2 linked regions of the Homo sapiens genome follow. The protein of the gene in region 1 interacts with the protein of each later gene in a pairwise test. Each region holds a gene or a part of one and is shown on either strand. Other genes may lie near its edges. The genes, in order: STMN2 and RGS6.

The links.
Region 2: the proteins of STMN2 (region 1) and RGS6 interact in a two-hybrid assay, tested with the Homo sapiens proteins (one study listed by BioGRID).

Annotation. Positions count from the first base shown.
Region 1 is NC_000008.11:79,601,230-79,616,907, forward strand, and holds the start of STMN2 (stathmin-2), read left to right. Parts: upstream 1-9,887; 5' UTR 9,888-9,966; coding exon 9,967-9,985; intron 9,986-15,678. UniProt on the Homo sapiens protein: Regulator of microtubule stability. When phosphorylated by MAPK8, stabilizes microtubules and consequently controls neurite length in cortical neurons.
Region 2 is NC_000014.9:72,449,748-72,464,685, forward strand, and holds part of RGS6 (regulator of G-protein signaling 6), read left to right. Parts: intron 1-4,780; coding exon 4,781-4,831; intron 4,832-8,523; coding exon 8,524-8,630; intron 8,631-9,884; coding exon 9,885-9,936; intron 9,937-10,109; coding exon of another isoform or gene 10,110-10,245; intron 10,246-14,938. UniProt on the Homo sapiens protein: Regulates G protein-coupled receptor signaling cascades. Inhibits signal transduction by increasing the GTPase activity of G protein alpha subunits, thereby driving them into their inactive GDP-bound form. The RGS6/GNB5 dimer enhances GNAO1 GTPase activity.

The sequences.
Region 1 (15,678 bases):
TTATCAAATTCAGAAAATCTAATATTGATATAATATCATAATATAATATGCAGTTAGCATCCCAATTTCACCAATCATCCCCAAACAATCTTTACGTGGTTTCTTTTTCTTGATCCAGAATCCAACCCAGGATCATCTATTGCAAGTAGTTATCATCTCTCTTCAGTTTCCTTTAATCTGTAATAGTTCCTCACCTTTCTTTGCTTTTATGACATTGATATATTTGAAGAGTACAGGCTAGTTGTTTTGTGGACCTTCTCTCAATGTGAACTTCTCTGATGTTTTGTAACAATTCGCTTTTGCAAGTTTGGCAGGAATACCACACAACTAATATTGCTTCCTACTTGATGCACCTTAATACCGAGAGGTACATGATGTTAGTTTATCACATTACTAGTGATGCTAACTTCAATCACCTGGCTCAGATGGCATCCACAGGTTTCTCCATGTAAAATCACCAATATTTTCTTTGTAATTGATAAGTGATCTGTGGGGAAGTACCCTGAGACAATGTAATTATCTGTTTCCCATCAAACTTTCACACAGTAGTTTTAGCATTTATTAATGATTTTTTCCTGAGTCAATTATAATTATAATAGTTGCATAATTTTTTAACTATCTTTTCTTCTATGTTTATTATGTAACATTATATCATAATGAAGAATTTTTCCTTCTCTCCCATTTGTTTATTTAGCTTCAGCAGAAAGCTATAGATTCTTATTTTATTCAGTGGGTTACCAGACATTAGTTATATTTCTGCTGATGGTTAGATTGTCCTATAATAAATTTAGCCATCAAGAGCCCTTCAAGCTTGTTCTTGTGACCTTTAAATAATATCCATTTTTTTAGAAATTCCATACTTTTGGAAACAATAAAGTGCTTCAGACTCAGGTTGAGTTTTCTGTCTCAGCTCTGGATTCAGCCATGGCTTCAAACTATTCAGAAACCATTACGTGCTTTATTTATGTCTACCCAGAGTGTTTGTTCTCTACAGTTACATCAATAACTTTTGTCCCTTCAATATGCTCCCTTAGGAACTCTTTTTCCTGTGTAATTAGAAGGCTTTCCTATGCTGATCACATGAAAATGTGACCTATAGTTTGACAAGATCATCTTGCCTTTCCAACATTCATCTTGCCCTAGTTTCTTTTAGTGGAGAATGGTATTTCAAAAACAAAATCTGGGTGCCAGCTGTGCTCATTGTACCAAGGTGTAATTGCTTCTAAGCTCATTTAGTGAATAGAGCTAAGAAATATAGACTTTTATTATGAATAGGATATCCTTTAAATCATGAATTAAGAAATATATGTGTGTATTATTCTATCTCTAACTCCAGTCTAATGCCACAAGATTCTTTCCTACTTTCCCCAATTCCATATATGTAGTTCCTTCTTCCCCAGTGAGAACATTGGCTCCCAACAATGAGATTATGTTTACCCATTTTCTTAATCCCACTAGATACATAAAATAGTTCTAGAATTTCCACAGCCATGCTATACACACAAGAAACTATTAAAGAGTGTTCGAGATTTTTTTGCAGGTTTTTTCATCTTTAAGGATATGTAGCAAAGCGCTGTTTAAAAGTATAAACTAATAATATTTAAAATCATAACAGTTAATATTTACAGAAGAATTCAATATATCTTATCTAAAAGTTCCACCCTAGCCTTAATGATAATGTAATCTACATCACTAAATCCCCATAAATTCTCACTTTCCTTCTGACCACATTACCTTATTACATTCTGATCTTGTCAGGTGTTTTGAAAATCTAATGTCATACACAAGAGTCGTACCTAACAGGTACAAACTGCATTTCCTAAAGAGACACCAATGAATACAACCCTACAGAATACACAACCAGTAGACATTATATAGGAAAAGACACCAGTGAGAGTCAGCCTTAGAACTATATCGAAAAGGGCCATTTCAAGTGTTTCGAGCCGCTACTGCTGCTTGTAAACTCCAGAACACAGGACCCATGGACTTATACTTCTTAATGCAAACATATTAAGGATCTTACAACATGAATATCCATCCCCACTGGATATCTAACCCTGAGCTCACTAAAAGGCCTCCAAAAGTAAGAAACTTACAGAAGTAGATCATTGAAACAGACAGTTGCCACCGCTGCAGACACTGCCAATTGCACAATTTTTTATATGGCTCAGGCACATATAAAAAATATTAACTCAAACACATCTATTCCACATGCCTCAACTTAACTGTAGGTCCCTCCTCACAGTTGCTACTGTTACTTATATATCCAGAGCCTCAAAGTCACCTATGGGAGGTAAGGATAACAAGGAACACGTGACTAATAATGCAACTTATGATTGAACTGTTTTGTCATGAATTAATTCAGAAACTTCACGACTTGTTTAAATTTATGTAGAATGTTTGTTCTTTGCAATTAGACCAAATACATTTAGGTGGCAACTGATACCAACTGATTATTTTCATGTCCCTTCTATATTCACCCAAAAGATTATTTTTCCTATTTAATTAGATAGGCCTCTCATGCTAATGACATCAAAATGTGACCTATTCTTTGTCCAGATCATCTTTGTAAGGACTAAAAAAAAAATTCTACTATTTCTCATATTTTGTGGGGAGCCTGACATGGTAACTTACCAGAAAATATGCAAGACACCAAATATCAGTAGTGTTTTTTCTTTAGACTGAAATGTGTGATCCTCATTTTATAACTAGGACCAAAAAACAAATAAAGCAGCTCAAGTTTGAGAAGTCCAACCAACCAGCATAAATGTATTGGCTAGACTAATCTAGCTAATAAAATTTTTCCTGACTATTTACAGGTCAACCATCTATTGAGTCAATACAGTAACCAATACCTGGATAAACACTTCAGGAAAAGTGGAACCATTAATTTGATTTTTTTAAAAAAAGCATAAATAAGGTTGCCCAAACTGATCCATGGGACTTGTTCTCCTAGTTGGTTATAGGCCATTTCAAAACTAAATACAAGATGGGATTTCAAACGTTTCTTTTGACATTTATAATGGTCCTCATTTTCTTCTGAATGAGATGCAATTACTTTAAAAATTACTATAGTGCCATTATGCTAGGCTGACACTCAGCTATATCTGAATCCATATAGGCTGCTATGACAAAAATACCACAAACTCTTTAGCTTTTAGACAACAGAAATTTATTTCTCACAGTTCCGAAGGCTAAGAACTCCAAGATCAAGGTGCTGGCAGATTTGATTGCTGGCGAGGGCTCGTCTTCTGGCTCATACATGGCACCTTCTAGCTGTATCCTCACTTGTGATAGGAGCCAAGGCAGCTCTCTGGGGTCTTTTGTATAAGGTCACTAATCCCACTCATAAGTCACCCCCGCTCACGACTTTATCATCTCCCAAAGGTGCCACCTCCTAGTACCATCACCTTGGAGGTTAGGATTTCAGCATATGAATTTGAGTGGGGACATAAATATTCAGTTCATTACAATTCTGCATCAAAAAGACTGAAGCTATCACAGCTCACTCAGCAGACTTTGGCTAAAAGAGGAACAACTTTACTGTAGTAGAGAAATGGTGCACTCCTAGCTTAACTAAGGTGAAGGGCTCAGCAGAAGTCCAGCAGAGTTCAACAGCAGCCACACCTAGAAATAAAACATCACTTTCTGTCACTTTTAGTAACAAGATTTCTCCAAAGCCTCATAAATAAAGTTGCCTTCTGTGATAACTGCCAGTCTGCTTTGGGGAAAATGCTCTCCCTGATAGGTTTTAATTAATCAGCTTGCCCATAGACAAAAAACAATATTTCACTGTTCCTCAGGCTGCTGTAGGTTTTGTTTTTATAAATCCCCCCTTGTCTGGTTTCATGACTGATCTCCAGCACATGTGAATAGATATCAGCCATGCTTTTAATTAAACTGAGTTATTCTTTGGTGAGATGGTCCTGAATTTAATCAAGCTTCAAAATTGACTTTCATTTACAGAGGACAGGAACAAGTTAAGTGACCACATTGGAAGCAAAGAGTCACATCCAAAATGTAAGAAAGTTCATAGGACAATTGACCCAGTTTCTACAAAAAGCCAATGGTGGGAATTTTAAAAATGAAGGGAGGATTGTACCAGATTAAAAGAGATTTGAGAAACATAAAAGTGAATAGAATATGCGGACCATATTTGGGTCCTGTTTTAAACAAAGCAACAGTATTCTTGAGACAATCATGAAAATGTGATTATAATTGTTAAGTATTTTAACAGAATTGTATTTATGTAAGAAAGGTTCATGTTTTATAGAGATACATACTTAACTACAAAGAGTGAATTTAAATGATTGTCGTGACTTCCTTTTAAAGTTTTCAGCAAAGATGAAAAAGGAAAAAGAAACAGAAGCAATAAAGTTTTGGTAATTTCTTAACTTGACTAATACAAGTTCATTATTTGCTTTCTTGTGTCCATTTGAAATAGTTTATGACAAAAATATAAGTACAATATTTTTATATTTTGATGTAAATATTCAAGCTATTGAAATCCTCTTTCCAAAAGAGGACGTTTCCTGCGCATTCTAAATAAACCCAAATAACACATCTGCAAATCTCTGGGCAATTTCTTTTCTGCCTCAAAAGGCAGCATTTGCCGCCTAACTGCACATTGCTCTGTTTTTGCTGAACTGAACTAAAAAGATAGGTGTAGTTCAGGAAGTGATCAAACCAAAAACAGAAAAATCCATTAAATATGTGACGAGAGGAAAAAAAAGAGTGGAATGGGGTTTTGTTGTCTCTAGTTGAGTTCAAGTTTAATGTGTTTTTTTTCTTTTTTTTTTTTTTTTTTTTTTTTTTTGGAAACGGAGTCTCGCTCTGTCGCCCAGGCTGGAGTGCAGTGGCATGATCTCGGCTCACTGCAAGCTCCGCCTCCCGGGTTCAAGCCATTCTCCTGCCTCAGCTTCTGGAGTAGCTGGGACTACAGGAGCCTGCCACTATGCCCGGCTAATTTTTTCTATTTTTTAGTAGAGACGGGGTTTCACCATGTTAGCCAGGATGGTCTCGATCTCCTGACCTCGTGATCCACCCGCCTCGGCCTCCCAAAGTGCTGGGATTACAGGCGTGAGCCACCGCACCCGGCCGAGTTCAAGTCTAATGTTACTGTCAAAGTAAATATTTGATGAAATTGATTTTTAAAAATACTACCTACATCCGTTAATTCAATTCCATTTGATAACACAGCAGGATGTGGGTGGGGGAAGTTCAGAGGGTCAGAAAATTAGTTAATAAATGACTAATGAGAAAATCTCCCAGGAAGGCAGTATACTAAAATGCTTTTGCTTTTCTCTTCCCTAAATCCTCCTCCTCCTCTTTTCAGCTTGATTTAGAAAAATAAGGTTCTTAGGCAACTGTTATTGTATGTATAATGCAATGCTCACAGTAGGGGTTCTGTTTAAAAAATAAAATAAATTGAGGCTTGTGGGATAAACAGAGTGAGTCACACTTCTCCCAGATTTCTCTTCCAGGCACTTCAGTGTTGTCTCCACTGTTTGGTTTGTAAACTAAGATGCTGAGTGAAATCTCAAGGGGAACCAACTTCCCAGCTTCAATGGTGTCCAACTAATGTTCTCCCTGGACTCAAGCTGTAAATCAACTCATGGAGAGAAGGAAAAAGTTAGTTACAGTAATTGCTGCCAAGATAGCGAGTAGTTTTCAACATTATCAATTTAATGTAAAGATTCAGCTCATTAAATTTATATCAAGCCTTTCTTATGATTAGAACAAGTTTATTTCCAGAAAAGTTCAATTATAAAACTATCAATAGGATTTACTAATTTCAATAAGTCATTTTGCTTCAGGGTGAATTATACTAATTATTAATACATACAAGTCCCATTTGGACATAAAGAAAACCCTAGGTAGAGAAAAAATAATAATAATTAACTAATCATTGTTTATTTTTAAATAACTAATTTAAGAAGAAAACAATGAAGTGTGTTTGTTCCACACTTCAGAAATAACTCTAACACACTGGCAAATTCCTGAGCAATACAGAGCTCACTGCTAATAAAGAACACCAACTCTCCCTCCTTGGAATGACTTTCCTTTTGAATAAACCATATTAGACAGTTCTATTAAAGGACACATGATCCTTTTTATTTTTCATTAATCTATAAGAATTTAAACATGGCAAAATAATCAAAATGTTAAAAAGTCAACTATTTTTTCATGTGTGATTATTTTAGATGCATCTCTAAATATCTTCAGCTATAACTACTTTATATCCTAAATTTCTAAACATCTAAAAAAATTCAATGGATTTTATCTCTCACATTTCTTTTGTAATCACCTGAGGTCAGATCAAAACAATTAATTTGACCTTAACAATGTTTCTCTTATCTCACTAACTTTTAATAATTACTTTAGGATTCTTTCCCAGGCACTTGATTATGAATAGCAGAAAATCATATGACTGTGTTAGATGGCATCAGCTAATCCTCCAAAGCAACTGCTTCTCTCTGGTTTGGAAAGAAATCAACACCTCAGGCCTCCTCACAGAGATAATACACACTAGGCTATAACCCACAATAATTAAAATTTCTGTTAGCAAGTCTGTGATTTCCACAGCTCCAGCTTACTGCTGGCTGTTAAAGATAACAAAAATTAACAAGGGCCATCTACTATTGTGAGCTCTACTCATTTAGGTTCTTTGGGAATAGGGCAGGATATAAATAAATAAACACTGGTAAACAGCCTAATACCTGCTCCCAACACAAGCTAAGCAAAGGAGGTTAGAAGTGTCAATATGGTCTCACTGGATTCATCCATTTTGAATCATTTTCAACACTGTATTATTTATTATTTCACAAATTGTTTTTAACTGTCTACCACGTGAATCATGAAACCAACCACTAGGAAGGGTATAAAGATATACACTATTCATTCTCTACCTTTCAAAGGTTTAAATGTATTGGAAACACTAAATATAGTCATAGTACTTAAAATTACTATATATCCATGATGGCTTAGACAGTTCATACATGATAACCCTTCAGTCTACCCAAATCCCCACACGACAGATACTGGTTGTCCTTAGTTTATACTGTGCAAATGTAGTACCTATTCTTTGAGTGTCCACCCATTCCCATCAAAACCATTTCCTTCAGGAAAAGCTGATCTCACCTCCAGACCTCTAGGGCCAACTCTATCTATATGGTTAGACGAAACAGCAAATGCACTTTTATTATTAGTGCCAGTTTGGGTTATTTTTTCAAATTTTTGCAACAAAGTGTGATCCACAATACACAAGATCATATTCACTCCCCCAAATTAATATTTTCTTAAAGAGATGGGTGTTATATTTTCCTTCACTTTCTATTTTTCAGACATTAAGGAGAAGCTTGGCTGGCATCACAAAAGCCTGAAACATCATCAAATAAATATTTGTTGAATAAATTAGCTGAACAAATGAATAAGTGAATAACATATTGAATATGAAATAATTTTTCTGTTCATATTTCACCCTTACTTTCCCATGTGAATATGCATGATACCATATTGTAATGATAAAAGAAAACAAAAAACAATTTGATAATGGCACAGCCCTTTGAATTTATTTGTGTTTTCTTAGCTGATTGACAATTTTGCCTACTATCTTTTTATTCTATGGTAAATCATATTGACCTACTCTCTTCCCTGTTTGACATTATTTAAAAATCATTCATAACTGAAGTTAGGTGGCTAACACCTAGAAAATCGGAAATAGAAAAGAGTCACATATGTGACCCTTAGGGCAGTAGAATGAGTGTTTTGTTTTCCTCATAGTCATCAAAAGTGCAATCGATTTCATTCAGCAGCCAACTGCAGTTGTTAAAGAAACTAATGCCATGACTTAGGGCCCTTGTTCTCCAAGGAAGCTGAAGAATGTGTAGAGATGACACACAGCCTGAGGGGAAAGGGTGTGGTGGGGAGAAGAGAAATACTTTGAAAATATTAGTCACACAGACATGCTGAAGATCCTTCACCTCATGAGTGATAACTACTCCAGTGAGAGGTGATTAACTGTTACATTTAAAGTGGGAAATGCCTATATATAGAGAGAAAATGGTTATTTATTTCCAGACCCTGCCAACTTCCATATTGCTCTCTTGCTGTGTCATAGTCACAGACCTGTTCAAAGATAGGAAATATAATTTCTAATCTTCCTGTTCAAGAAATAATTTTATTGATCTCCACTTCATCTTTTATTTTCCCCATGATTCAGCAGGTCAAAACTGTTCCAGTTCCAGTAGCATCCTATCAGTCAGCAAAATGTCCATGAGGTTAAAATGTCTTACAAGTTAATAGGAGGTGAAGAAATTCATTTCAGCACCAAGGAGAGTGCCCTGCTATTTTCAATTGGTTTTATGTATTTGAAACTGTGTATTGTTCCTGAGGATAGAAAAAAAAGTTGAAATGTGATTGGACAGAAAGCTGCTAAAAACCTATTTTAATAAGAAGAAAAAAATACATTCATTTTTCTGAAATTAAAAACTTGCCAGGGTTTCATACCTGTTCATGATTGCAACAATGTGCTCTTCTTTTGGCTTTCAAACGTCGGAATTAGCAATTCTTTGCCTATTTTTCTAATATTAAAACCAGTTTCTGCATGGAATTAGACTGGCTCAATAAAGTTACAGAAGAGTTAAATTAGCAGTAATTAAAAACTTCATGCAGCAACTCCTAAACTTTTTCTCACCATTTTCAGAGCTGTGCACATGGTAAATGCTCAATACATATTTAAGTCAAGTGAAAGAGAACAAATGAATGACTGGCATCCATTAAGTGAGAAGGAGGAACTAATAAATGCCTTGTTTGTAATGAAAGTCATTTTTTGCAACTAGTCTCAAAGATCCTCACATACGACATTGCTCAATCCGAAACTTGAACACAGCCTTCCTGGGCCTACATAAACGTAGTCTCTCTGGATCTCAGAAAAATAATGACCCAGACCACACCTTTCATCTCTTCTAAGTTTTCCATGTAAAGCATTCTCCTTAGAGCCCTGGAAAGGTTACTAAAATTTTGACCCACTTAATCCTACACCTTCAGGGCAACATGGCATTCACCTGTGGTTTCCTTAATGCCCAAACCAGCCAGCCAACCTGTTTTCTGCCGTGTTAACAAATGGACAGGACACAGGCACCAGAGGTTAAACTTTCTTCCTCTTCCCCCATGTCCCCAGGTGGACCATTATTACCATCCCTATTCCCAAGCAACCAGGTAGCCCCTTCCTCTGTGCCAAGGGAAGAAAACACCATGCTTCCCTCTCCTGAGAGACCTTCAAGAGTTTAGAGACGCCTAAGTCCAGCTGTGCTAAAAGATAAAGGACAATAATGCAAGTCTGCTCTGAGCTGCCACCATAGCCAGACATAGGGTAGCCCTGAAAGACTAGAACCAAGGACAGAGCCAAAGGTGAAAGAAAATATGAAAAAGTGAAAACACAGTATTTAAACAGAATTTTCCAACAGCCTGCATATAGTGAGGACTTCTCAAGCTTCTGAATCCTTTTCCATTGAATTGTGCAATGGCACATGTATGAGCAAAGTCAAGCCTCCTGGCTCCCAGGTAGGCACAGCCCAGTTCTTAGCTCCTAGGAAGCTTCAGGGCTTAAAGCTCCACTCTACTTGGACTGTACTATCAGGCCCCCAAAATGGGGGGAGCCGACAGGGAAGGACTGATTTCCATTTCAAACTGCATTCTGGTACTTTGTACTCCAGCACCATTGGCCGATCAATATTTAATGCTTGGAGATTCTGACTCTGCGGGAGTCATGTCAGGGGACCTTGGGAGCCAATCTGCTTGAGCTTCTGAGTGATAATTATTCATGGGCTCCTGCCTCTTGCTCTTTCTCTAGCACGGTCCCACTCTGCAGACTCAGTGCCTTATTCAGTCTTCTCTCTCGCTCTCTCCGCTGCTGTAGCCGGACCCTTTGCCTTCGCCACTGCTCAGCGTCTGCACATCCCTACAATGGCTAAAACAGCAATGGGTAAGGCACTGCGCCTCGTTCTCCGTCGGCTCTACCTGGAGCCCACCTCTCACCTCCTCTCTTGAGCTCTAGAAGCATTCAGAGATATTTTATAAAGAAAAAGATGTTAATGGTAACACAGGACCAGGAAGGACAGGGCAGTTCTGGGGGAGGTGGGAGGGCAGAGAAGAGGTCTATGGAAATCTAAAGCGAAGAATTTCTTTTAAAAGGTAGAAGCGGGTAAGTTGCCCTCCTATGGGTAGAGAATTTATTCTGTTTCCATATTTAAAATTAGGACTCAATCGTGAGGGGAGGAAGCTACCTTAACTGTTTGCCTTAAATGGGCTTAAGGGACATTTTGGAAAGTGCTTTATAACGACCTTTTTTTTTTTTATTTCTTCTCTAGTTTAAGAAGAAAATAGGAAAGGGGTAAAGGGAAGGTGGGAGAAAGGAAAAAGAAAATTGCAAAGTCAAAGCGGTCCCATCCCGCTGTTTGAAAGATGGGTGGAGACGGGGGGAGGGGATGGAGAGAACTGGGCACATTTTACGGTATTGTCTCGTCGAAGAAACCGCTAGTCCTGGGGTGCGGTGCAGGGAGGTAAGACGGCGGGGGACAGGGTGGGGGTAGGACCTCCGCTCCTTTGTTTTAGGGCAAGGGAGGGGAAGGAGAGAGGAAGTCGCGGAGGGCGTGGAGGGCGCGGGTGGGCAGCTGCAGGGGCGGGGAAGCGCGCGGCAGGGAGGGGTGGAGGGACAGCGGCTTCGAAGGCGCTGGGGTGGGGTTTCTTTGTGTGCGGACCAGCGGTCCCGGGGGGAGGCACCTGCAGCGCTGGGCGCACAATGCGGACAGCCCCACCCAGTGCGGAACCGCGCAGCCCCGCCCCCCCGCCCGGTGCTGCATCTTCATTCGAAAGGGGGTCGGGTGGGGAGCGCAGCGTGACACCCAGGAGCCCAACCCTGCGGGGACAGCGGCGCCACGCCCCGCGCTCCCCGCTCCCGACTCCCCGCCGCGGCTTCCAAGAGAGACCTGACCACTGACCCCGCCCTCCCCACGCTGGCCTCATTGTTCTGCTTTTAAGAGAGATGGGAAAAGTGGGTTAACATTTTTCTTTTCGGAAGCAAATTACATAGAGTGTTTAGACATAGACACAGATAAAGGGTTCTTTGAAGACCTTTGATCGTTTGCGGGAAAAGCTTCTAGAACCTAGACATGTGTATGTATAATAATAGAGATGACATGAAATCGTATATAAAGCAAAAGAGGTCAAAGTCTTAAGTTAAGCCACGCGAAATTTCCGTTTTGTGGGTCAGACAGTGCCAAATATCGGCAATTTCATAAGCTCAGAGAGACAAGACAGTGGAGACACAGGATGACCGGAAAAGATTCTGGATTCAGGGCCTTCATCCGCAATTGGTCTTGTGCCTTGAGTGCCCACGGTTCTGGCGCTCAGTGGCCCCGGGGTGAAAAGGCAGGGTGGGGCCTGGGGTCCTGTGGCAGCTGGAAGCACGTGTCCCCCGGGACTTGGTTGCAGGATGCGGAGACAGGGAAAGCTGCCGAAAGGACTCCATCTGCGCGGCTCCGCCCTGCCCTACCCTCCCCGCGGAGCCGGGGAGACCTCAGGCTCCGAGACTGGCGGGGAAGAGGAATATGGGAGGGGCAGTTGAGCTGTATGCAGTCCTGGAACCTCTTTTTTCAGCCCCGCAGTCCACAACGGCCCGAGCACCCCTTGATGTGCGCAGACCCCCGGCGTGGCTCTCAGCCCCAGCACCGAGCCCCTCCCAGCCAAGCGGGTGGCTCTGCAGAAAAGCTGGCTCGAGCCCCGCCCGGCCACACAAAGGCGCGGCCCCACCCAGCCCGGGCGCGAGACCGCAGAGGTGACCCCCTTCCCAGGGATTCAGGGAGGGCTGTCTCTTCTCGCCCACCCACGGTCCGCGGAGCTCGGGGCTTTTTTTCCCCCAGCCCAAGCCCCCCGCCCACCCTCTGTTCTCTATGATTTTCCAGAATGGAGACCCCGCGAGGGGCTTCTCTAAGGGAGACCCTCGCTCCTCCAGCGGGGCGCGGCTCGGCCCCACCCCTCCCAGCTGAGGCCCAGAGCCGCCTACCGCTGGCCGGGTGGGGGCGCACGTGGCGACTGGGTGTGTGGAGCGCAGCCAGCCCTGCAGAGCCCCGCGCCGCGCCCTGCGCTCCCCTCCCCGGAGTTGGGCGCTCGCCCCCGCGGTGCAGCCGGGGAGACCGGTTTCTGCGCAGTGTCCTGAGCTACCCCCGCTTTCCACAATTCGCAGTTCACTCGCACGTCCAGAAAGGTTCTGAGAATGGGTGGTGGGGGCGATCTCGCCTCGCTTTCTGCACCCCTCAGAAAGGTTTCCGCTGCAGGCTAGTGGCTGCAAACTCATCGTCATCATCAGTATTATTATCATTTCAAATCGTTGTTATTATTTAATGATTCAGTAGCCTTGTTTGTTCTCATTTGTTCAAAAGGGACGTGGATTGCTCTTGGTTAAGGATTAACCCTTGTTGCGTTCGCTTTGCTTCCTCCTAATTGCCCTCATCCCTTTCCCCCACAAAAAGGTAAATTTGTCTCCAGTTGTTCATTTTAAGTTATAAAGCAAATATATTTTTGCTTCCTGCCAGGATTATGTATGTTCATGTGGCTAAGATACATGTGCAAGTGCTTGCTAAGAGCAGGGTTTGTGTGCCAACGATTGCTGGAAAATTCTCTGCAAAGAATTGTTTGTGGCTGCAATGGGTGAGAATACACATATATAATTGAGATGATCTTCAACATAAGGTTATATCTATAAATATATAAATATAGTTTATGCACAAAATTTTAAGTTTTTTCCCCTGAAACTGTTCTTCCAACTGCTGATTCTTGATACAGCCTCAATCCTACACAGATACATGGATCGTGAAATGGTAGCCGCCATCCAAATAAAAATCCCACCCCAAATATGACAAACGCAAGCATCCTTTCTGGCCATAATTTAACTGCATTTGCAAATCATGAAAAAAACACTACTTCTGCAGTATTAAAATAATAGATTTTGAAATTAATTCCAATTTCAAAGATAATTAATTATCAGGGCGAGTGCTTTTTTCCTGATTCATTAAACAATTATGTATTCAGCATGATTGTAAGAGGTGCATATAATATTCCCCATTATCTTTTCTAATGAAGTGGGCACCTTCTGAATGGATATATAAGTAACTAGAAATGAAAAGCTGAGGATTTGGTCAGAATTTCAGGATAAAACTGAAAGAAATGGCAGTAGTTTATCAATTAATCTCATGTATTTAGTTTATACCAGGTGAGTAAGCTGAGCCTGCAATAAACACTCTCTGTCCCAGTGTAACACGTCGCAGGTAGCTAGAATGATAGGATAAATTAATAGACCTTGTGGTGTTTGTCTATGCACGTTAAAATTCTCTGAGAGAAAGTATATTTTAAAATGATAATTAAGATTGGACATTTGTGCTATTAAAATCTACAACTTTAGTCAAAATTCACAATGGTTTTTTTTTACAATAATGTGACTTACAGATTTGTAGTAAATTATTCTATTCTAAAAGAGAAATGAGTGTTTTTATTGTTACAGCTATTACCTCATTAATATTTTTAGCAAACTTTTATTTGTTGCATTGAAAGCAGTTTTAATTACTTTGGGTTTTTATTTTTCAAATTACTAATGGATAGATGGTGGAATAAGCATTTAATCATTTGGCACAATATGACTTCCATCAAATAGCTCATTCTCAGTGATTAAAAAATGCTACAAGAGGCTACAATTTACTCAGATTCAGGAAATGTCCTTTCAGAGTGCCATAAGGCTGATTCATATAATAAAATAGTTTTCTTCCCTATAATTTAAGATCAAATAGTTACTTAGTTCTGTGAATACCTAGCAGTAGCTATCAAACAGAATTTTAAAGTTAAATCTGTACAACTAACAATGAAGTGGAGGATGAATCGATACATATTGAATGGAAGACTTTGTCATTGATAAATTCAGGCCATCTTTAGGAAAATTCCGGATTTATCAATCACCATTATTTTTTACTTCAACTGAGTGTGACTGATCACATGCTCAGGCTACCTTGGTAGCTCATTGCTCACAGGAGGCTGAAAAAAGCTGGCCTCCGAGCAGGAGGAAGCTCAGAGCACAAACCTAGGCCTGGGCGTGGCCACTGGGAGCTGCTGATAGCGAACCCCAGCTCACACCAGTTTCTTTTTTGGTCGTGGGAAGAAAAACACATATTATCCTGTTGTCACAAGATCTGTGACCTTATATGAAAAAATGCTAGAATTTTTTCATTAAAAAAGAAAATACTGAACTAGCCAGTGACCCAGATGTTTTCAGAACCTAGACTGGTTCTGTCCATTGGAAAACCTCGGTGTCTGCATTAACTTTTCACCACACTAGAGGGCAATCATGTTCTCTAAAAAAGCAGATGATTGATGTAAACCTAGTTCCAAATATTAACTGTTTAATAAAATCTTTTCTTTTACCAGGAACATTCAAGTGTTTATTCAATAAGCTGATGCCATGCTTTACCCTAGTGGATGAACAGAGCTTGTACAATTTTCAAGGAGACAGGATGAAATGAGTGGTCATAATCTGAAAGTAGATACACGCCCTGGTTAATTATTCCCTGATGGTTTTACTTCTCAGTTTTATTACATTGTTATTATAATACCATTTATGTTACTTCTGAGATTTTGTAGTGGATAAATAGTAGAAAAATGTCAGTAGTAATAGCAAAGTTATTTAGCAGCCGAATATTTTAATGCTTAAAAATAAAGGAATAAATTAAAGAAAATCATTGTTTACTTCTTCATCGATTGAAATGTGCCCCCTGTTCAGAGCACATCTGAATATCAGAGTCTCCACCTGCAGAGAACATGCAGCTTAGCGAGTAAAACAGGCAGGTATGTGATACTGAGGAGGTGTACCAAAAACTGACTGCTGTTATTTTTCCCATCTTCTAAGTCTGTCTTTCTTTTCCATTTAAAGATACCTTTTTAAATCTAATCCAATGTGATTTCAATCTAGTTTTATCAGATTTCAACAATTATTGAGCATCTCCTTGTAGTGGTTTTCTGTTTATTAGAAAATCGATGTTAATTTTAACGAAGTAAGAAGAAATATATAAGTATAAACTAATTTTGGGTATCATCAAAAGTGGATTTTTTAAATATGCATTGATAGAATTATTTTTTGATTACATTTTATGTAATTCTAATCCAGCTATAAAATATTTAATAGTGTCATATTACTGTGTTCCTCAAACTTTGATGTGCATATGAATTACCTTTGATTTTCATTAAAATGCAAATTCTGATTCAATACATCTGGCTTGAGGCAGACATTCTGTCTTCCGAACAAGCTCCCAGATGATGCTGATTCTGACCACTAAACACATCAGTTTTAGGGATATTAACTTGTAATATACAGGTATCCCTCCTGGTAAGCTCTGGTATTATGTCTTAACATTTTTAAATCTATGGTAATCTTTACAAAATATTTTACTTCCGAACTCATATACCTGGGGATTTTATTACTCTGGGAATTATGTGTTCTGCCCCATCACTCTCTCTTAATTGGATTTTTAAAATTATATTCATATTGCAGGACTCGGCAGAAGACCTTCGAGAGAAAGGTAGAAAATAAGAATTTGGCTCTCTGTGTGAGCATGTGTGCGTGTGTGCGAGAGAGAG
Region 2 (14,938 bases), on another chromosome or scaffold:
CTGAGGCTCCAGGAGTGGCAGATGGCCAGAGAGTGGCCAACTGGAGGCACACTATTGAGCCTCGGGATTGAGCCTCCCACTGTTTACCCCTCAGGAAAAAGAGAGCTTTGAGTCTCCTGGCCCTTTCCCCAGAGAGCAGGAAATGGCCAGGGCTTGAGGATAGCCAGAGGCCGTCCAAAGTTACCCATACCATCTCCACTTTGGCCTCAGAGGCCAGCTCTTTCTTCTCTCTGTGCTTTTTAAAATAAAAACTTATTTTTCTAGTGTAAAAGTATTATATGAATGTTCTATGAACTTCAAATAATACAGAAATGTAAAGAATAGAAATTTCCCATTATTTGATGCCTCCCGCTCCCCAAAATAACCTAAAGTTAACAATTTAAATATATATCCAGAATTTTTCCTCTCCATATTTATATATATCTATACATATATAATTAATAGAACATAAATATTTTACAGTAACCCTGTTCTCAAGATGCTTTTCCACTGTAGATGTTTAATAAATATTTATTGCATGAATGAGCCATAATTTATTTATTCAGTCCTCTATTAGAGGCCTTTGGTTTGTTCCCAGTCATCTAATAAACATGATTTTAGATATAAAAGACATAATTGAAATACATATAACACATACAGAAACATAACCCATAACTGCATATCATAAATATATCCTTAAATATACTAATAAAACACGCATGCAATGGAGAGGTGTTTTGGGTGCCGTCTGGTGTATATCCTGGATATCCCTGGAATATATATTGATAAATCAGCCTCAAAAAGAATGCTTTCAGACAGTGTTTTAGGATCTGTGGGAACAAAGGGTGGCCATCCTGCATTTGTTATGTTGTTTCAACATAGCATTTGTTATGTTGTTTTATTAACTTTAAGTCCTTGGCAAAGCAGCTTGACTAAGATAAGATCCAGAAACCAGTCGTGGTAACAAGGCAACAATTAATCTTAGATAGAACAGAAAAGGAATCCGCTTCAAATTCTCTTTAGAACAGGAAGGAAAGGGTGATCGTGGGTTAGCAGGAAGGAAGGAAAGAGGCAAGAAAGGAAAGTGAAAAAAGAATGGAAATGCTTTCTCCTGCTGGTGATTTGGATGTTTGGACTACTCTTGTCAGATGCTACAGCGTAATCACTGTAAATGTTTTAAAGGACGCGATATTATGACAGATTTCCCTTTCTGACTTGTTCCTGGGGCTGCACACACAATGATTTACTCCCTGCCACGGGCTGGAGGCTTGGCCACTCCTGGGTTGGTCCAAGGAAGCCTGGAATACCCAATGCCTGTGAGAGTGAGCACGTCCCCCTGTCTCTAGGTGTTGTTGCTTGTGCTGAAATGGAGTCTACCAAGCATTGCCATGGCATGGAAGGGATGGTGGCGGAGTAGATGCCACTGCAGATTGAGTGCAGTGTCCCAGGCAGCCAGGGGCAGCCGCTCAGCCCTTGCCTGGACCTGAGGACTGTTGCATCAGTCTCCAGATGAGACAGCAGCTGTCATGGTGGCTGAACCAGGGAAAAGAAACTCCACTCTGTGGTCTCCATGGGGCTAGGGAAAAAAGGAAATGGGTTTTTGTGATTTTCCCTTCTTTAGAAACAAAAGTGCTTAAATGTGATTCTTTAGCTCTGTAAATGCAAACCACGGCCTGGTGGACTGGGGAGAACAATTAGGCCAAAGGCTGAGCACAGGAAGCCAAAAGCGGGTGGAAACCCAGACAACGGTGCTGAGCCGGGGGTTGGGGTGGTTGGGGGGAGCGGATATGATAGCAAGGAAGGAGTTTCAATGTGAATGAATACTAATTAGTGACATGGATATTAATGATGACAGTAATTAACAGGGGAAAGGAAGGGCTGTCATTGTCCCAGGGTGAGTAATCAATCTTGGCAGGTGATAAATAATGGTTCAGCAAGCTCAGCAGAAAGATAATCCGCAGGCCTGGGGGAGAACTCAGCTAATGCAGGAAACCTCACAGTTTCTAGGCAACCCACAGAAAAGAACTATTTTTTTTTTCTTTTTTGAGACAGCGTCTCACTCTGTGGCCAGGCTGGAGTGTAGTGGCGCGATCTCGGCTCACTGCAACCTCCACCTCCCGTGTTCAAGCAATTCCCCTGCCTGAGCCTCCCGAGTAGCTGGGACTCAGGCATGTGGCACCACGCCTGGCTAATGTTTTGTATTTTAATAGAGACGGGGTTTCACCATGTTGGCCAGGATGGTCTCAAACTCCTGACCTCGTGATCCACCCTCCTCGGTCTCCAAAAGTGTTGGGATTATAGGCATGAGCCACTGCGCCTGGCCAGAACTATTTTTCTTTTGAGGAAAAAACAGATTAGAGTATCTCTCCCACCCCCAGCTTGGGACTACAGTTCTTATTTGATTTCTGCTTTGTTCTTCATTTCCTGGGACAAATGTTGAACTTGTATAACTTGGAGGAAAGGGACACACAGGCACATGTACACACACACATATTCATTCTCTCTCTCTCTCTCTCTCTCTCTCTCTCCAAGAATACGAATGAATACGAGTGTTTTTGATCTAAAGTTTGACTCACAGATGCTGTCCAGGAGTAGCAAGAGTGAGGAGAAGCCTAGAAGTGCTGCCTTTGAGGTTGGCGCGGGGAAACTGCAAAATTGCAAGGCTGTGTCGGCAGAACTGGGGCACACAGGAGGATGAGGATGGCCCTGGGGGTCCCACTGTGCAGGGTTACTTCACCTGCCATGGACCCAGAGAGAAACAAAATGTCTAGGCTTTCTGTCCTGTACCAGTCCCACTTCTGGCCACCAGTCACATATCTAAGAAAACTGATTTCTGGGAAGAGGGCAATCCTCATGAAGCCCCTCTGCTGGATCCCCAGGCCTTCAGCCAGGAATCCAGCCCAGGAGAGTTCTTGGCACATCCCCTCCCTCTCACCAAAGCCTCAGACCCACGGTAGGACTCTGATATCTAAAATGTCTCCCCTTGCAGGCTGTGTTCCATCAAACAATTTAGAGGTGACAAAGCCACACCTTCAATGGTCTGCACTGGTTTAAAGTGAGATCTTTGGGTGGCAAAGGTAGATTGACCAGAAATTCAGAACCTTCCAGAAAACTGAACTCCTCTACTGCCATGTACACAGTGCTGCTCTCAGAACATTGTTTGCGGGTCACATTTTCAAAGAGAGGCAGACAGAAGGGAACTTATTCAGAGGATTGGGAACATATGGTGAGGAACTCCAGGCCACACCCTGCAAGGAAGCAGCTGAGGGACCCAGGCCTGTTGCACTTGGAGGGAGGACGTCGCTGGTATGCCGCAGGACTGTCTGAATAGCTGAAGGGCTGTCGCACAGAGTGGTTAGGTTGGGGTTTGTTTTTCTATCATCAAATGGCAAAACTGAGGCCAAAGGGAGGAAGTCAGAGAGGGGCAAGTTTCTGTTCAGATAAATCAAGGCTGATTTAACTGGGTCAGGCTGGGTAGGGGGGAGTTTGTGAGTTTCCAGGTACTAGGGATTCTAAACACAGGTTACAGCACCTCTTGTCCAGGGTGTTGTGAATGGGACATGTATTGGCTGGGGTTGGAGTAGACAAGCTTTAAAAGTTCCTTCAGGGCCGGGCGCGGTGGCTCATGCCTGTAATCCCAGCACTTTGGGAGGCCGAGGCGGGCGGATCACGAGGTCAGGAGATCGAGACCATCCCGGCTAAAACGGTGAAACCCCGTCTCTACTAAAAATACAAAAAAATTAGCCGGGCGTAGTGGCAGGCGCCTGTAGTCCCAGCTACTTGGGAGGCTGAGGCAGGAGAATGGCGTGAACCCGGGAGGCAGAGCTTGCAGTGAGCCGAGATCCCGCCACTGCACTCCAGCCTGGGCGACAGAGCGAGACTCCGTCTCAAAAAAAAAAAAAAAAAAAAAAAAAGTTCCTTCAGACTCTTAAGATTTATATTCGTTAAGGTAATACTAGATACCAAAACAGCTAAGTCCCAAATTTCAGGGGCTTAACACAACAAAGTTCAGTCCTTTCAGTCCTCAATCAAGTCAGAGCCCCACATGGGCGTAATGTCCATGGTTGGAACCGTGGCTCCCTGCCTATTGTGGCTCTGCATTCCCCCAGGTCTTTGGAGTCCCCCACATCCAGCCAGTAGATGGGATTGAAAGGGGCAGAGCTAAGGAGAGCCATGTAGGAGTTTTTATGGTCCAGGTCTGGAAGTGGCATATGCCATTTCTACCCATATTCTATTGGCAGAACTCAGTCCATATCTAAGTGCAGGGGAGGCTGGAAATGTAATCTAGCTATGGCACAGTGAGGAGAGGAAAGAGGTCTTGGTGAATACATAGACGTTTCTGCCACAAATGCAGGGACACATTCATTCAGGATAGGCCTGTGCCGGAAGAGATGAGAGTTTTGCAAGAACCTATGAGGTCACCTGTGTTGGTCAGCCCTTGTAATTGATGGTAGGGAGCTGATGAGGCCTCCTTCTTCAAGAAATGGTCTGGGGGCCAGGCATGATAAAGCTTCACCTAGCACGTCTCAGGGAAGTCCTCTATAGACACTTCCTAGAAACATGAATATAAGCTCATCCTGCATCATCAGAAGTGAGTGTTTTTTGGACAAGAATGGAATTGTAACTATGGAAGTGTACTGAAGAATGGAAAGGGTTGGTTAGGACAAAAAAAAGTGCCCATATTATCCTGCTCTACAGTGTGGACTGTTTGGAATTAGGATTCTCTTAGGTAAACATGTTTCTTCTGCCACAGTGTTAAACACCCAGGAGGTCTTCAGCTGAAATTGCTTTATCGTTGCAGGTACTGACATTGTGCAGTGGCTTATGAAGAACCTTTCCATTGAGGACCCAGGTACTTGACCTTTGACCCCACCCTTATCTCCCCTGGTATCAGTAAACATCCCATAACCAAGTTCCAAACTAGATTCCCCTGCCCTCCTGAGAACTGGTCTTGTAAATGTGAATTCCAAGACGTGGAATCACTCTATTTACAAATAAAATTAATTTATTTTCTCCACTGAATATTTGTCTTTAAATTTAAATCATGCTTTGAGGAAATGAGCAACTTTTTAGAATGCCAAAGAGCCCAATACAATAATGTGTGAAATGAGTTGAATTCTCATTAGCTGCAGCAATTAAAGATAAGTTGTAGCACTGTCACTGAACAGCCTTCTAGAGCCAGCTCTTAAAATTAGATTGCCTGATCCACAATTAAGATGTTTAATTATTTGCTAAGACTCCCTCTGTTTTCTGCTTCTGCAAGAAGTGAAGGAATGATTTTTTTTCAACTTTAATTGCGCATTTCAATTAGGAAGACCTTACCAGGAAAACAACAACAGAACCCTGGCCAATAAAACAATTTCCCAGTCTGTTCTCCCACCAGAAAATAGGCAGTAAAATTTATTTTCACAGTGTAATTAGGAAATGGGGGGGGTGTTCCAGAAAAATAAAAATTCAAGATAAGTAAAGCTTATTCCCATGTGCTGTCAGTTAATACTTTTCCGAATTTATTACATACTCCTTTGCCTTGATTAACTGAGTATTCTTGATGCCTGAAGGTCACATTTATAAAGATCCACTAATACACTCTGATGTTCTTAATGGACATTGGCGTGATTAGACTTACCTGCCCCAAATTAAATGGCCCTGAACCACAATGCTTTTTGAAGATTTTTTTGAAGTGCCCATTCTGCATCCGTGACCTTCAGCTGTGAGTCCCTGCTGGAATCGGTGTGTCAGCTTGGCACTCCTGTATTTTAACCCAACATTTCTAATCTGTTGACTGCAAAACAATACAGTTTCTATGCAGTTCAATTATATACAGTTGTTAGAACTCTGAGTGCCAGAAAAGCAGATCATTCATAGAAGTGGCCCGAGTCTTTTCACCCCCTTGATTAGTGGCTACTCTCACAACTAGTGAAAATTCTTAATTCTAGTCAAGTTCTTGATTCACAGGGAAAAAACTATAAATGCTAACCCTTTGTAAAGGATAGAACCCAAAGCAACTCACTATGTGTTGTCCCTGATGCAGCCTGTACTTCTGAGTGTCCGCTTGGAAAGCCTGGACTGAATCAGCATCTACCTGTTTAGTTACATTTATCTAAAGTCAGTATTTCTTGTGATTATAATGCTAAACTAAGGAACGTGTTTCCTCATGGCCACCTTTTCTCTTCCAAGAGCACTGGTTTCTTTGCCTCCTAAAATAATCGTTGTATTTCTGACATATATTTTATTATTACTATTATGAGAACCCTAAATTGGCGAGCAGTATGTGAGAATGAGCTTCAGGAATCCTCCAGCCCTGGCGTGAGAAGCTTCTGTGAAGGGTCCTGAATGATGAGAGTTATTTCTATGAAAATCTGTTATACTCTGATGCCCTTGGGAAGACATCATGGTATAGGGGCCTGTTTGGGCTTCTGAGAAGTGGCTGAGGAGAAGCTAAGAACCATTTGTCAGCTGGGAATAGTCTAAGGGGGGAGATGAGGCAAACCGAGGCCTTGGGAAACAGTCAGATCCAGCATCTGCCCCTCTCTCCCTTCTTTTTCCCATCAGTCGATTTCCTGTGGTTATTTTTTGGTTTTTGAGGCAAGGTCTCACTCTGTCACCCAGGCTAGAGTGCAGTGGCACGAGCATAGCTCACTGCAGCCTTGACCTCCCTGGCCCAAGCCATCTTCCACCTCAGTCTCCCGAGTAGCTGGGACTATAGGCTCCTAGCACCACATCCAGCTAATTTTTTGTTTTATTTTTTGTAGAGATGGGGATCTCACTGTGTTATCCAGGCTGGTCTTGAACTCCTGACCTCAAACAATTCTTCTGCTTTGGCCTCCCACAGTGCTTGGATTACAGGTGTGAGACACTGCACCTGGCCCCATTGGCCAACGTCTAAGCAAAAACATTTTTGCTCAGAGAATGAAGTTAGAGTCTTAGCTCCAAGACTGGTGGCATGAAAGTCACCTTCCTACAGGATTTTGTTCTTTCTTCTCTGGGGAAGGAGCAACTGCTGATGATGAAACTTCTGTTCTAGCTGGACTCATGGTTCTTGAAGCATATGGACTTTAAAAAGCAAACCGGCCAGACATGGTAGCTCATGCCTGTAATCGCAGCTCTTTGGGAGGCTCAGCTGGGAGGACTGCTTGAGCCCAGGAGTTCAAGACCAGCCTGAGCAAGATGGCAAAACCCTACCTCTACCAAAAAAAATAAAAAAAAAATTAGACAGACGTGGTGGCATGTGCCTGTGGTTCCAGCTACTTGGGAGGCTGGGGCAGAAGTATCACTTGAGCCCAGGAGTTCAAGTCTGCAATGAGCTGTGATCATGCCACTGCACTCCAGCCTGGGTGACAAGAGTCAGACCTGTCTCTAAAAAAAAAAAAAAAAAAAAAAAAATAGCAAATTGGTCATCACTAAGCAAGTAAAATAAAACTCTATTCATTCCAATTCCACCAGTTACATGTATGTTTCTTTCAAAGGAGAATAGGTGGTTCTTGATACGCAAAACATTGCATTGTATTCAACTTCTTGAAAAGTTTGCAAGTAAAGCCAAAACAAACTACTTTAAAAAGTCAGAGCTCGTGAAATTAATAATTGCTAGAGGCTCCCTGAGCACATTAACAATTTCCATGTCCAAAAATTAGTTTTAACCTGTAACAGTACTTTTGGATTTGTGAAAGATTGTGTGTGGTAGAAGCATTGAGGTTTGTTATTTTTTCTTAGCTCTGCTCAGGATAAATCTAAATTCTTAACTTTTTTTTTTTTAATTGAGACAGGGTCTCGCTGTGTTGCTCAGGCTTGTCTCAAACTCCTGAGCTCAAGCAATCCGCCTGCCTCTGGATTACAGGCGTGAGCCACCATGCCCGACCTATATTCTCAACTTTCTATGTGCATCTATTTATGGCTGGTGCCAAAGGAACGAAGGAACAGATTGACTGTGGCAAAAATATAAGTATTTCTATCAGGTTAGCCTCTCTCTGTCACTGCCCACTTCAGTGTCCTTCCTCTAATTTTCAAAGGAAGTGAGGTTTTCCTCTCTGTCCATAAGAGAAGGGTGACACCCTTCTCATTCCTGATGGGACTGTCATATTGGGGAACGCACTGGGAGTCCTACGTCTCTATGGGCAGCGAGGCTGCATTCTTACTGCTGGGGATGATGAAACTGGTATGAATCAGAGCTGCTAGCACTTACGGAGTATTTGACCTGTACCAGACAATCACTTCATGTGAAATATCTCACTTAGTTAAATACAGGTTCTTCTATGCCAGAACTTATGCCCTTGACCCTGAAGCCAGACTTTCTTCTGAAGGTCAGGGTGAGGAGGGGTTAAGCCATGTCAGACTCTCAGAGGTGGGATTCAGACAAGTCCCAGACACATAGTTGCCCTTTCCAGCCATTGGCATCTCCCCTCCTCACCCCCACACTGAGCAAGGGCAATTGTATCATCAACACAGACATCTGGGGGTGATGACAGTTGACTTCTGGTCTCCCAGCTTAATTTTCAGCCAAATAACCTGCTTTCTAATTCCTTCTCTCTCTATGCACTGTTCTTACAGTTGAAGCAATACACTTGGGGAGCCTTATCGCTGCCCAGGGCTACATCTTTCCAATCTCAGACCATGTTCTCACCATGAAGGATGATGGCACCTTTTATCGTTTCCAGGTAAGCCTGCTGGCTCCTCCTCCTGAAGAACCTTTTCTTCACAACATCATCTGATCTTAGGTTAGAACTACAAAGAAAACCTAGGGATATCTGAGGGAGTAGCCCTCACTCCTCATCAGCACTGGGAAAGCCAAGAGAACTTTTCTCTGGGCCACTGGGTGACCCACTTAGAGAATAGTAAAAGGCTGTCATTGAGAGCCTACCATGCCCTGGGCACTGCCTTAGTCCCTTGGGCTGCTACAACAAAATACCTAAACTGGGTATCTTATAAACAAACAAACAAAAAATTTACTTCTCATGGTTGTGGAGGCTGGCAAGTCCAAGACCAAGGTGCCAGCAGATTCGGTGTCTGGTGAGGGCCTGCTCTCTGGCTCATAGATGGCACCTTCTAGCTATATCCCCACATGGCAGACAGGACCTGGGGCTTATATCAGACCTCTTTTATAAAGGCACTAATCTCACCTGTGAGGGCTTCAAAGGCCCCACCTCCCAATACCATCACCTTGGGGATTAGGATTTCAACATGTGAATTTGAGGAGGATGCAGACATTCAGACCATGGTAGACACTTTGTACAGATTTCCTCATTTATTCTGAAGAGCACACTTTAGGGGGTAAATATTACCCATTTTACAGAGGAGAAAACTGAATTGCTCAAAGAATTAAAGTGTCATTTAGTAAATCCTGGAGCAGCCTTCATCTGAACCTAAGTGAGCCTGATAGCACAGACCTTGATCTTTCTACTGTCTCATGTTGCCTTCTCGGAGTGAAGTTTCTATTTGCGACCTAATCACCCTCCCCACCCATTTCACACTCCTTCTCCCAGATCCTTCCGTAGAGGGAATGAGGGCAGAGGATATGGGCTTGAATCAAGGTCTAACCAAAGGGTGTGGGAGAAGAGTTCTTCAGACTAGGTTAAAGGGAGGAAAGGAACATGGGCTTAGGTGCCCAGTAAGTTATGCCAGCCTGACTTTTGTACTTAGACCTCTATTGTCTCAGGATAAGAATATATTGCCCTGTGAACAAAACTTAACATTTTTGCATTTGTTTTGCTTACTTACATTTTGCTTCTCAATGCCTAGGTTAAAATGTTGACTCACCTTAGCTGAATTAGAGAAGAGGAGAGAATTGTGGGGTAGCATCAGCAAGAAGGAGATGGGGGAGAGCCTGCCATCAGGGAGGCTCCTCCCTGGGTGTGGGAGGGAAGCGCAGGCATGGCGCGCCCCTGAGCACTAACACCCATGCTCCTTTGCAGGCTCCGTACTTCTGGCCTTCGAACTGCTGGGAACCTGAAAACACTGACTATGGTGAGAACTGAAGCCACTGGGAACTCTCAACTTCAACACTGTGTGTCACTTCTGGGGGTGCAGAAGACAAATGCTTGGTGTGGGCCATGGTGGTACATGGGGAGGAGGGTCCTTTCTGCTTAGTCCTTTCTCATATTGTTGCTATATAACAAATCTCCTGTTCCACATAACAGAGGAAGGCCCAGCTTACTGAAAGATGTAGTCCTTGGAGGGGAAGCAGGAGAGGGAAGAAAAATCTTATCAAGGGTGGTCAGTATGTTCATCTTGGGGCCATGGAGAACCAGGATCCCACAGCAACACTATCAGATGGTGACTTTTAATTGTTCTTTCCAGGGATAGGGCTTCAGGGAGGGCTGGATCAAGGGGCTACCTCCTCCTGGCCCTTTCTGTTCTCATAGACTTGTCAAAACTTACTAAGAACCTTTTGGTGTTCTTGACAGTTGCAATTTAGAAAAGAGACAGAGACCAGGGAGGAGTATACAGAAGTCACTCTGGACTAGGAAAATAGAGTGGGTGAAGTTGAGAGTTCTGTCTCTCTAGACAGGGACCTACAAGACTTCTGCCAGATATTCTCAGTGGAGATTATTTAATATTCCTATATGCCAATTCTCTGAAGAAGTTTTATTATCGCTATGCTTAAGAGAAAGAACCTGAGGCCCAGAGGGGCCACACCCTCACACTACCACATTGTCTGAATGCTCCCTTGATTATAAGCCTCTTGAGGGCAGAGGCTGGTCCAGCTTATGCATTCTCATATCTCCAGGGCATAGCCTATGTCTGAGGCAGAATTAGTGCTCAGTAAATATCCACTGACAGTTCTGGTTCTTTATTGAAGGTGACCAACAGACACTCACTAGAGGGAGCAGAACTTGAACTCAGATCTGAGTGGCTCCAAAACCCATACTTCTTTCACGGTCCCATGTGTGACATGCCTGAAGGTTGTAGCTGCAGCACTGCCCCTTTGCATGCATCCTTGCTGCTGACTCAGCTGCTGTGGCAGTCTCATCTGTGGCTCTCCTTGGGACTGGGACACTCAATGAGACCTGCAGCTTCTTTGCAGAATTGTTTAAGACAAGAAGGCAGATGCAGCTGTGGTGAGTGGGAGGGAGATGTGCAGCTGGGTGGTGATCAGGGGAGCCTGTCTGGGAGACCCATGGGATAAGATACAACCTTGGAGTCACACGTTTGAGCAAGAGGAAACCAACAACAGGGAGCCAAGCTGAGGATGGAATACAAGCGAGTTGTACCTACTAAGGCTGGAGTTGTTCCATGGTCAAGTGTGGAGGACGTCAGTCATGCAGAAGGGCAGGCTCTGGGGCTGTCTGCTTGGCTATCCACAGGCACCACTGTGGGCCCTCTGACACTGTGCTGCACCCTAACCAATGTGATAAGTGGATCCAGGAAGACTTCCGACTGCAAGTGAGAGCTGCATTTGACCGCTCATAAAACTAGTGCTTCTGGGGCTGAAAAGACTGCTCATGAAAGCCCAACTCAGAATTTGAATAATTATAGCTCAGTTCCATGCAGCAACGTGTGCCCTTGTGAATGTGAAAACCAGTATTTTTCCAGGCAGTGGAGAGGGTGGGAGGATGGTAAGACCAGATACCTGGGCCCAAGTAAGATTAAAATATTTACTTCCGTAAAGCTTAGGGCATCTTATGCTGCATACTAAAGGGCATCATCTCCCTGTTCTACAGGTGTTCTTCATTTTATAATTTTAATTGTGCATCATGAACAGGGAGAGAAATAATAGTTTGTTTCAGGCTCTCATTAAACAAAAATTATTTTAAATTCCTGTGCCTCAATTTATGGCAAATCAGAGGGAGAAATCAAGGTTCAGGATGCACAAGTGTTCACCAGGGACCAGGCATGGTGGTGCATACCTGTAATCCCAGTGACTCGGGAGGCTGAGATGGGAGGATCACTTGAGCCCAGGAGTTCAAAGCTGCAGTGAGCTATGATTGTGCCACTGCCCTCCAGCCTGGGTGATAGAGGAAGACCCTGTCTCTAAAACAAAGAAAAACCAGTACTCCCCAGGGTTTCCAAAGCAGTTTAGTTAGAAAATCAGGATGTATTTATGAAGAGAGAATCCAGCACAATGAGCCCCCAGGATCAACCCGTTCCACTAGCTGGGTGATCTTGGCAAATTACTTAACCTCTCTGTGCCTCAGAGACCTCATATTAAAATTAGAGTAGTAATGGCACTTGTCTCCTAGTGTTTTGTTAGGATTAAATGAAATGCATGTAAGGTTCTCTGAGTTAATACGGAGTGGTGGTTGGTATCACTACTGGGGTGGGGTCGGTATTATTGCCACTGGGATGTTGGTTGATATTATTATGACTGAGGTGACCGTCTCACCAGGAAGCATGTGAAACTGAAGCTAAGAATTCAATATAGTATGATTTGGACTGATGAAGTACCAGAAACTTTCATTCAATTGACAAACGTTTACTGGTCCCTACTCTGTCAAATTCTATGTCAGAGATTTGAATAAGTCACAGCCTTTCCCCGCAAGCATTCCAGGCTGGGAGAGGCAGCATGATGCAGGGAAGAAAGGCATGGTGAGGATCTGGCTTGAGTATTCAAAGGTTTTATGTGATGAATGACTGAGAAGGCTGAATAGCTTGGGAGGGGCAGGTTTATAAAAAGGCCTTGGCAGTCAAGTAGAGACATTTAGAATGGATTCAGCAGTTTGGGGAAGCTATTGTGGGTCCCCAACAATGAACACACTTTCCCAAGTTTTTTCCCTACTTGGGAAAAAATTGGTTCATCTATAAGATGGGGGTAATAACAGAACCCACCTAGTAGGGTTATTATGAGGATTAAGTGGACTGTGGAAGATTAAGTAAGGGCTGTGACTTAGTCAAATAGTTCCTGATATTCAGTGGGCTCAATGGAAGCAGTAGCTGCTACGATGGTGATTTTTCCAGCACCTAAAACGGTACTTGGCCCATAGGAGACACTCAGTACATTTTTGAATGAGTGACTGAATGAATAAATGGATCGGTGAATGTCATAGAGGAAACTCTGCACTGGTCCTCGATTCTAATTCCATCTCCATCACTAACTAGCCCTTGGGTCCATCACTTCATTTCTCTGGGCCTTTAGTTTCCCCATCTGTAAATGAGGGGCCTGTACTTGATGGTTGCCAAGGTTACCTCCAGTCTAAAATTCTTTGGTTCTAAAAAGTCATCAGAAAGTATGAGGAAAATAGAGAAATAAGTGAGTTATAGGTTCCCTAGTTTAGGAGATTGAGGTACATAATGATGTTGCTAGTAAAGGCAGAAAGTAAAGAAAGGGGTCAGTTTCTTCAGTACATTGAAACTCGATAAGCTCAATATTTTTTAAGAAATTTAATTGCACATATAATACATGAATGTGTTCCCTTTATACAATTTTTAAATATGTCCCAGTTTTGTGTGGTGACACATGGTGAACTTGAGATGGCAGTGGATTTCTCTGAGTGAGATGTGAGATATAGGTAAGGGTGGAATGCCAGATGTAAGGACAAGGAAATAGAAATTTTTCGGTAAGAAATTAAATATCCAAGAGAAACCAATATCTGAGCTTAAGACAGTTCTTCCAGATGCCCTCTTGTAGGGCTGGCTATTGTCACCAGTAGTCACTAGAGTCGGTTGGAAGTTAGAGCAAGCCCTAGTGAGGGCACTCTGGGATGCAGACAAGCCCCAGGGAGTTCTGTGCCAAGAACAGCCACATCCCACCTTCCTCATTGTGGTGAAAAGATTCCTTGTGTGACTTTAGGCACAGGGACATTAGCTAGTAGCATGTGACCCTGTGACTCATGGCCATCAGGAGTGGCCCCAGCTCTGCATTCCATGCATGATAACTCACTTCACAACCCCGCTGTCCCATTTTGACCCCGCTTACCCATTTGGACATTTCTTGGGATGACTCTGCCTGCATAAAACCCACAGTCAAATCCAGGTTAGCCTTTTCTGAGTTTTACATTTGGCCAGTGCAAAATCCTGTCCAGGGCAGCATTGTCAAAGCAGCTGCCACCTCCACTGACCTGCACTGCTCAAAGGTAATCATGACCTGGCCCAGTCGAGCTGGTGACATGTCAAGCTTCCTGCCTGAGGTTGTCCCTAATTCTGCCAGGGGTCCAAGAGACTGAAGGAGGTACTTTGTGATAGATCGGACACCCCTTTATCAGACACAGTGAAGCACTATAGCTGCTTGGTTCATTGGAAAAGTTGGTAAGTAGAAAATCATTTTTAAAACGACATATGCACACCTTAAGCACCTCATGTAAAGGTAAGATATACAAAGGAACACTCATTTGACAGCCTTGTGAAGTAGGACCAAAGTGTTCTCTTTGATTATGAGCTGAATAATTTTAGTTTCTTAAATCAACCGCACTCAAAATAAACTACCCTGTTTTGGTATCTTTAAAGTGCATCAAGAATGTAAAGACATTTTTGTAGTCTTTTGTATATTGGCCCCTCCTAGATTTTTATTATTTTTCTTACTTTTTCCTGTTATCTCACCTGTATCAAATTCACCAGCAATTGCCTTAGCTAACTCTCCTTCATTAAATTGTTCCAAACCATTCAACTGAGTTTTCATAGAAGCAACACTCTCTCTCTTTTCACATTAATTTCATTGAGACGTGTGATATTTAGTGAACTTGTGTGATTAAAATAACAGATGTGCCTGATATAAGCAGATTTGGGAACAACCACAACTGACTCCTATGAGCACACAATTCGCCGGGTGGAAGCAGAAGTGTGGGCATACCAGAGGGTAGGCTGCTAGCTTCCAGGCTCCAAAATGTCATAGGTATCAGTAAATTTTTCAGAACAAATGAAGGAAGTTGGTTGATCCAGCAAAGAGTTGACTAGAGATCTCTTAGTAAAGAGATCTTGTTGTCCAACAACAAAATGATCACAGGTTCTCTCTGGCCCTCCCTCTTGATCATTCTGTTGTTCATTTATTTATGCCATTCATCTACTGTTTTCCCTGGATTGTTCCACTTGGCTC